Linked DNA regions of Homo sapiens: all the other regions are linked to region 2. Evidence: fine-mapped expression QTL. A gene starts in region 2. Each other region holds a variant in brackets. All regions are shown on one strand. Distances are between the middles of the regions.

Region 1 (2,769 bases), 34 kb before region 2:
TGGGTTGTTTCAACCTTTTGGCAATTGTGAATAATGCTGCCATGAATATTAGCGCACAAATACCTGTTTGAATCTTTCAATTCTTTTGATTCTATATCCTGAGGTGGAATTGCTGGATCATCTGGTAATTTCATATTTAATTTTTTGAGGAGCCACCATACCATTTATTACAGCAACTGTACCATTTTACATTTCCACCAGCAACATATGAAAGTTCAAATTTCTCCACATCCTCAATACTTGTTATATTCTGTGTTTTTTGGGAGTGGGTGATTTTGATGACAGCTATCTTAGTCAGTTTGAGCTGGTATAATAAGTTGCCATAGACTAGGTGGCTTAAACAAGAAAAATTTATTTCTCACAGGTCTAGAGGCTAGAAAATCCAATATTAAGGCACTAGTAGATTTATTGCCTGGTGAAGGTCCTCTTCTTGGTTTCCAGACTTCTTGCCGTACCCATCACGTGGCAGAAAGAGAGCAAGAGTGCTCTCTGTGGTCCTTTATATTCCACTCATGAGGGTCCCACTGTCATAACCTAATTACCTCCCAAAGGCCCCATCACCTATTACCTATTACCTATTACCATCAACTATTAATGTGATGGTAATCACATTAGGCGTTAGGATTTCAACATATGAATTTGGGGGAGTGGACAGGAATATTCAGTCCATAACAATAGCCATACTAATGGGTGTGAAGTGGTATCTCATTGTGGTTTTAATTTGAATTGCCCTAATGATTAATGATGAGCATCTTTTCATGTGATTACTTGCCATTTGTATGTCTTCTTTGAAGAAACTTTTGTTCAAATCCTTTGGTCATTTTTTAATGTGGTTGCTTTGGTGTTGTTGACTTGCAGAAGTTCTTTATATATTTTGGATATTAACCCTATATCAGATATATAATTAGCAAATATTTTCTTTTATTTTATGAGTTACCTTTTGACTCTCTTAAAAGTGTCCTTTGATTATACAAAGGTTTTTAATTTTGATAAACTCCAATTTATCTATTTTTCCTTTTGTTGCCTATACTTTTGGTCTCAAATCCAAGAATTCATTGCCAAATCCAGTGTCATCAAAGTTTTCCCCTTTCTTTTCTTAGAAGATTTTTATAGTTTTAGTTCTTAAGGTTAGGTCTTTGATTAATTTTTAGTTAACTTTTGTCCCTGGTATGAGGTAAGGGCCCAAATTATTCTTTTTTTTTTGTACTTTAAGTTTTAGGGTACGTGTGCACAACATGCAGGTTTGTTACATATGTATGTATGTGCCATATTGGTGTGCTGCACCCATTCACTCATCATTTACATTAGATGTATCTCCTAATGCTAACCCTCCCTGCTCCCCCCACCCCACGACAGGCCCCGGTGTGTGATGGTCCCCTTCCTGTGTCCAAGTGTTCTCATTGTTCAGTTCCTACCTATGAGCGAGAACATGTGGTGTTTGGTTTTCTGTCCTTGCAATAGTTTGCTGAGAATGATGGTTTCCAGCTTCATCTGTGTCCCTACAAAGGACATGAACTCATCCTTTTTTATGGCAGCATAGTATTCCATGGTGTATATGTACCACATTTTCTGAATCCAGTCTATCATTGATGGGCATTTGGGTTGGTTCCAAGTCTTTGCTATTGTGAATAATGCCGCAGTAAACATACATGTGCATGTGTCTTTACAGCAGCATGATTTATAGTCCTTTGGGTATATACCCAGTAATGGGATGGCTGGGTCA[A/G]ATGGTATTTCTAGTTCTAGATCCTTGAGGAATCGCCACACTGTCTTCCACAATGGTTGAACTAGTTTACAGTCCCACCAACAGTGTAAAAGTGTTCCTATTTCTCCACATCCTCTCCAGCACCTGTTGTTTCCTGACTTTTTAATGATCGCCATTGTAAGTGGTGTGAGATGGTATCTCATTGTGGTTTTGATTTGCATTTCTCTGATGGCCAGTGATGATGAGCAGTTTTTCATGTGTCTGTTGGCTGCATAAATGTCTTCTTTTGAGAAGTGTCTGTTCATATCCTTTGTCCACTTTTTGATGGGGTTGTTTGATTTTTTCTTGTAAATTTGTTTAAGCTCTTTGTAGATTCTGGATATTAGCCCTTTGTCAGATAGGTAGATTACAAAAATTTTCTCCCATTCCGTAGGTTGCCTGTTCATTCTGATAGTAATTTCTTTTGCCGTGCAGAAGCTCTTTAGTTTAATTAGATCCCATTTGTCAATTTTGGCTTTTGTTGCCATTGCTTTTGGTATTTTAGACATGAAGTCCTTGTCCATACTTATGTCCTGAATGGTATTGCCTAGGTTTTCTTCTAGGGTTTTTATGGTTTTAGGTCTAACATTTAAATCTTTAATCCATCTTGAATTGATTTTTGTATAAGGTGTAAGGAAGGGATCCAGTTTCAGCTTTCTCCATGTGGCTAGCCAGTTTTCCCAGCACCATTTATTAAATAGGGAATATTTCCCCATTTCTTGTTTTTGTCAGGTTTGTCAAAGATCAGATGGTTGTAGATGTGTGGTATTACTTCTGAGGGCTCGGTTCTGTTCCATTGGTCTATTTCTCTGTTTTGGTACCAGTACCATGCTGTTTTGGTTACTGTAGCCTTGTAGTATAGTTTGAAGTCAGGTAGCGTGATGCCTCCAGCTTTGTTCTTTTGGCTTAGGATTGACTTGGCAATGCGGGCTCTTTTTTGGTTCCATATGAACTTTGAAGTAGTTTTTTCCAATTATGTGGAGAAAGTCATTGGTAGCTTGATGGGGATGGCATTGAATCTATAAATT
Region 2 (2,769 bases):
TTAAAATTAGTGATAATTTGGAGAAATATTTCCTAAAGTTTGAAGTAAGTCCTTGATTGGTTCTAACAATGATTAATATAGATAGGGATCAGTGAAGTTGAACAAAATTTGCATGTGTATCTGATATCTCAATGTTTTTCTGTAGAAACGTTACCTACTTTTCAAAAACAAAATTTTTTTTTGGAAGGCACTGAGGTGGGGGAGAGTGGTGAAGAATAGAATTCCCATATACTTTTCTCTCCAGGAACAGAGACATTATCTTACAAAACTGCTGACCAGAAAAGGTCAGAGTCATGGTTAGCTAACATGTCTTCATCCTCCCAAGCCAAATCGCATAGAAGCCACTGGAGAACTAGTTTGGAATTCCGGCTTCACTACTATGTAGTTGTAGGATTTTGGAGGAGCTGTACAGGTTCACTGAGCTTTAGTTTCCTCATTCACAATATGACGATACCAATTTCTTCCTCATATTATATCTAAAGACATATCTATGTCTATATGCTTGATCGTACATTATGTGCGGAGATAAACCGGTAACAGTGATTGCCTCTGAGAAGAGAGACTTACTTTCCATTGCGTAATTCTTAGGCTCATGGTAGAATTTGTGCAAGTGGATGAAGCACTGCCTCACTGGGAAACACTCCAGTGAAATAAAGCACAGAAAAGAGCCCGAAGAATAATTACTTGGTTCTGTATGACACATGTGCTTTTAAAGGGTTGTAGTGTAGGATGACATTGGGTAAGTCCATGGGCCTAGAAGCCTAGGTGGAGTTCTTAGGATTTTGTATGTAGACTATGAAGTTTTGGAAACGTTTGAGCTGGAGAGAAGACATTCTGATCAAAGGTGGCTTTCAGGAAAGGCTGGTGCGACAGGCAGGGTATTTATTAGAATGAGGCCAGTGACCACTCTGAAACAGACACAAAGTAAGTTCCCTTCAAGGGGCAGGAAGCTCCCTGGGATGGTGAGACCAGAAAGGCACAGAGGCTGAACCCTCGTGATGGCGCTAGGTCCCAGGTTCGCTAGCATCCGAGAGAGGGGATTGGGTCGCTCCAGAGGCCATTGCGAAGGCTGCTGCCAGTTCTAGGGTCGGGGTGGGGTCAGGCTAGGTCCCTATTCCTAGGGCTTTAGCACCGCTCACTCACAAGACCCCTTTTCCCAGGAGGACGTATGGGTTTTTCCTGTCGCTCCAGCTTCTCTTTCGCGGCCCTTCCACGCTTGTCACTTACCTGAGCGCAGCCAATCAGCACCTAGAGGTTGGGCTACTTTCGGCCAAAGGAGAACGGGGACTTGTGGGGGACGCTCCCTGCGCACCAATGAATGTGCATGGAGATGGAGAGGCGGGCCTGCAAGTGCGAACAAGCCAATCACGGAATCCCGGCGGCCGGCGGCCCGGGAGGCAGTCGCGCGCTCGCATCCCCAAGATGGCGGCCGTTAAGGACAGTTGTGGCAAAGGAGAAATGGCCACAGGGAATGGGCGGCGGCTCCACCTGGGGATTCCTGAGGCCGTGTTTGTGGTAAGAGGCACGCTGTTCCCTGGCATCTTGGCTTGAGGCCTTGGACTGCCCCTTTCTTCCCGGCTCCCACCCAGGCCTCGACTGTTGGAAGGAGCTGAGCCAAGTGTTCAGGGAGGGGGCGCTCGGTCTGCTCTCACCCCTCGCACCTGGACAGATTGAGCTCTGCTGGGGGCCCGCCCGGAAGAAACGTAGCTCGAGAAGGCCGTAGAAGAGAACGGGGTGCGGGGCCGGGACGAGGGGCGAGGGGCGAGGGGCGGCGGGTGGCAGGGCAGGGCGGCCTGAGGGACCTCCGGGCTGCCGCCGGTTTTCGTCCCCCTGCTGGTTGGAAAAGGGGAGGTGGTGAGGAGCTCTCGACTCAGCATGGATGCTGGAGACACAGTACAATGAATAGGCAGAACAGCCAGTGCTAAGATGTGAAAACCGGGAATATCACTTTGTCTGTTGAAGGAATGCAGTGGTCTCGGGAATGTTGCCTCGGGAAATGGAAGAAGAGACCGATGGGAAAATAGGATGATAGGTTGGGAGTGTAAAGTCCTTCTGTGTCTTGCTAAGGAATTGAGGTTTTCCAGTAGGCAACGGGCTGTCATCAGAAGGCCTTTCGTTTTAACTACATCATTCTAACAACTTAGTGGAGAATGAATTGTTGAGAGAGGAGGCTGAACCCTCCTGATGGCGCTAGGTCCCAGGTTCGCTAGTGTCCTAGAGGGGATCGGGTTGCTCCACAGGCCGTTCTGGAGGGCGCTGCCTGTGCTGGGTGGCTTTTTAAAAATTTTATTTTATTTATTTAATTTAGAAATAGTAGTTGAAAACTATTTGACTAATGAGAGAAAACATCTGACTGGCCCTCCAGGCCAGGTCATCTGTCTGTCCCCACTTAGCTACTATAAAATCTTCATGGAAGTTTCTCAATCTTTTGGTTTGTACCTTACCTTACCTCTGCCTTTTTTTTACTAACTACGTCTTATATCCTTCTAAAGACTCATTTATTTATACCACACTTGATATTGTATATTCGCATTTGCTGATTGAATTTCGTAATTGGTTATTATTTTGTGTTTTTATGAGCTGTGTCATTTATTTCTCTACATTGATCTATTATCTAACCATAACAAGGAATAAAATTTGTTGAGTGCCAGGCACTTTCTTAATGATTTTACAAAACTCGAGGTGGTAGCTACTACTGTTATGCCCGTTTTTTAGATGATAAAACTGAGGTACGGGGCACTTGAGTAACTTGCCCCAGGCCACACAGGA
Region 3 (2,769 bases), 81 kb before region 2:
TAGACACCAATAATTCTTTATGAATATAGATGTAAAATTCCTCAACAAAATCCTAGGAAACCTAATCCAGCAACATATAAAAAGAATGAGGCCCCATTACCATGTGACAATTTTCCTAAGAGTGCATGGACAGTTCAACATACAAGAATCAATCGATATAATACACCAGATTAAATGAGTAAAGGACTAAAACTGCATGATCATCTCAACAGGTGCAGGATAAGCATTTGACATAAGCCAACACGTTTTCATGAGAAAAAGACTCAACAAACTACAAAGAGGAAGGAACTTCCCCAACCTGATAAAGGCCATATATGAATAACCCACAGCTAATATCATACTTAATGGTGAAAGACTGAATTATTTCTGCATAAGATCAGAATCAAGACAAGGATGCTGTTTCCTGCCACTTTAATATTGTACTAGAGATTCTAGCCAGGGCAGTTGAGGGCAGGGGAAGACACCCAAATTGGAAAGGAGATGTAAAACTGTATCTATTTGCAAATGGCTTGATATTATATAGGGAGAACCCTAAAGAATGCATGCACACACACACACAAAACCTATTAGAGCTAATAAATGAGCTCTTCAAAGCTGCAGAGTTTGGGCAGGGTTGCTAGCTGCTCTGGTACTGGAAACCCAATTTAGCTGGGGGTTGTCAAAACAAATGGGTACGGGGTTTCTTTTGCAAGTGGTGGAAAGGCTGTAGATTGATCTTGGTGATAGTTGCACAACTCTATGAATATACTAAAAACTACTGAATTTTACACGAAATGAGGGAAAAGTTGTAGTGTGGTGGGCCCCCCACCATGTTACTTAAGAGTGTATGTCCACGGCTTGAAACTTCAAGGCTTGGCGGTGAGCCAAGGCCATGGTGCCCAGCCTAGGAGCAGGTGTCCTTGAGAACCCAAACATCCTGGAATGGATCTGGGAACCCACTACAGCAAACAGTCTCATTGCACACAGTAGGCAAAGAGCCAGGAAATTAGCTTAAAAGCAGCTTAGAGATGGGAGGCAGGGCAGATCTCTGGAGTTGTCCTGCTGCTGCCCAGGAGTGCCCTGTATGTAAGTCCTAATAAACTCCTAAGATGGACTTCTTTGGTACCTTGGCTCCTTCCCAGTTTGGGGGGCCCAGTTTGAGGGAATGTTACAGTGCCAGGCTTTTCTCATAACGAAGATATATGTGAATTAAATATCAATAAAGCCATTTAAGAAAATATGCCTTAGAAAGATGTGATTTAAAAGTAATGTGTGTGCATGTCTAAACAAACTTCAACATTCCTTAAAGGAATACATGAACATACAACACTCAACAAAGCAAAATGAACAGTATCTGGCATCCAATCAGCAATTACTAGGTATAGGAAGAAGCAGAAAAATGTGACCCATACACGAGACAAAAATAAGTCAATAGGAACAGGCCAAGAAATG[C/T]CCAAGATGATGGAATTAGCAAATATTTAAAAATAACCATTATAACTATTATAATATCCACAAGGGTTTAAAGGAGAATGTTCATTCTTTTAAAATCTTTCATTACTCTCATTATGTTGAATAATATAAAAAGAACCAAATGGAACTTCTAGAGATGAAACATGCAATATTAGAAACGCAACATGTTCTAGATGGGATTAACAGCAAATCAGACTCTGCAGAAGAAAAGATCCGTGAATTTGAAGGCATAACAAAAGAAAATCTCCAAACTGAAGCATAGGGTAGGAGGAAGGCTCTTAAAAAATGGAAATGAACAGAGCTTTGGTGAACTGTGATACGATCATCAAGAAGTGGCCAGACGTGGTGGCTCACGCCTGTAATGCCAGCACTTTGGGAGGCCCAGGCGGGCAGATCACTTGAGCTTAGGAGTTTGAGACTAGCCTGGACAACATGGCAAAACCCCCCATCTCTACAAAACATACAAAAATTAGCTGGGTGTGGTGGCACATGGCTGTAGTCCCAGCTACTCAGGAGGCTGAGGTGGGAGGATGGCTTGAGCCCAGGAGGCAGAGGTTGCAGTGAACCGAGATTGCACCATTGCACTCCAGCCTGGCTGGGCGACAGAGCAGAACCCTCTCTCACTAACAAAACAACAACAACAAAATCACTGAGTGTAATACACATTTAATTGGAACACTCCACTCAATAATAGAAGAATATACATCTTTTCAAGTTTACAAAGAACATTTATGGCTGGGCGCGGTGGCTCACGTCTGTAATGCCAGCACTTTGGGAGGCCGAGGCGGGCGGATCACGAGGTCAGGAGATCGAGACCATCCTGGCTAACACAGTGTAACCCTATCTCTAATAAAGATACAGAAAATTAGTGAGGCATGGTGGCGGGCACCTGTAGTCCCAGCTACTGGGGAGGCTGAGGCAGGAGAATGGCGTGAACCCGGGAGGCGGAGCTTGCAGTGAGCGGAGATCCCGCCACTGCACTCCAGCCAGGGCGACAAAGCGAGACTCCGTCTCAAAAAACAAAAAAAGAACATTTACCTTGATAGACCATATTCTGTGCCATAAAATAAATCTCAAATTTTAAAAGACCAAAGTCAGAAAAAGGTGTTTAGACAACAAAAGCAGTATTTAGCAGTAAATGTCTATATTATAAAAGAAGCAATACATCAAGTCGGAAACCTAGCCTTCTACCTTAAGAAACCAGAAAATAAAGAGCAAAATAAACCCAAAGCAAGTAGAAGAAAGGAAATAATAAAAAGCATAAGTTCATGAAATAGAAACAGAAAATAGAGAAATCCCATGGAACCAAAAGTTGGTTCT

Evidence for each region. PIP is the estimated chance that this variant, and not a neighbour inherited with it, causes the effect.
Region 1: its variant is the best candidate, but not a certain one, in a credible set for the expression of VBP1 in whole blood (TOPMed, PIP 0.80).
Region 3: its variant is the best candidate, but not a certain one, in a credible set for the expression of VBP1 in whole blood (GTEx, PIP 0.53).

Annotation. Positions count from the first base shown.
Region 1 is chrX:155,181,157-155,183,925 of GRCh38, forward strand. No RefSeq gene overlaps it. Among named protein-coding and RNA genes, the nearest start is that of VBP1, 34 kb to the right of the region's middle. The variant A/G (reference allele first, on the strand shown) is at 1,724.
Region 2 is chrX:155,215,061-155,217,829 of GRCh38, forward strand. It overlaps VBP1 (VHL binding protein 1), which reads left to right and starts at 1,400. Exons shown (of 6, transcript NM_003372.7): 1 at 1,400-1,515. The coding sequence starts at 1,423. RefSeq lists enhancers at 1,053-1,841, 1,152-1,446, 1,444-1,523 and a silencer at 1,694-1,783.
Region 3 is chrX:155,133,591-155,136,359 of GRCh38, forward strand. No RefSeq gene overlaps it. Among named protein-coding and RNA genes, the nearest start is that of BRCC3, 63 kb to the left of the region's middle. The variant C/T (reference allele first, on the strand shown) is at 1,432.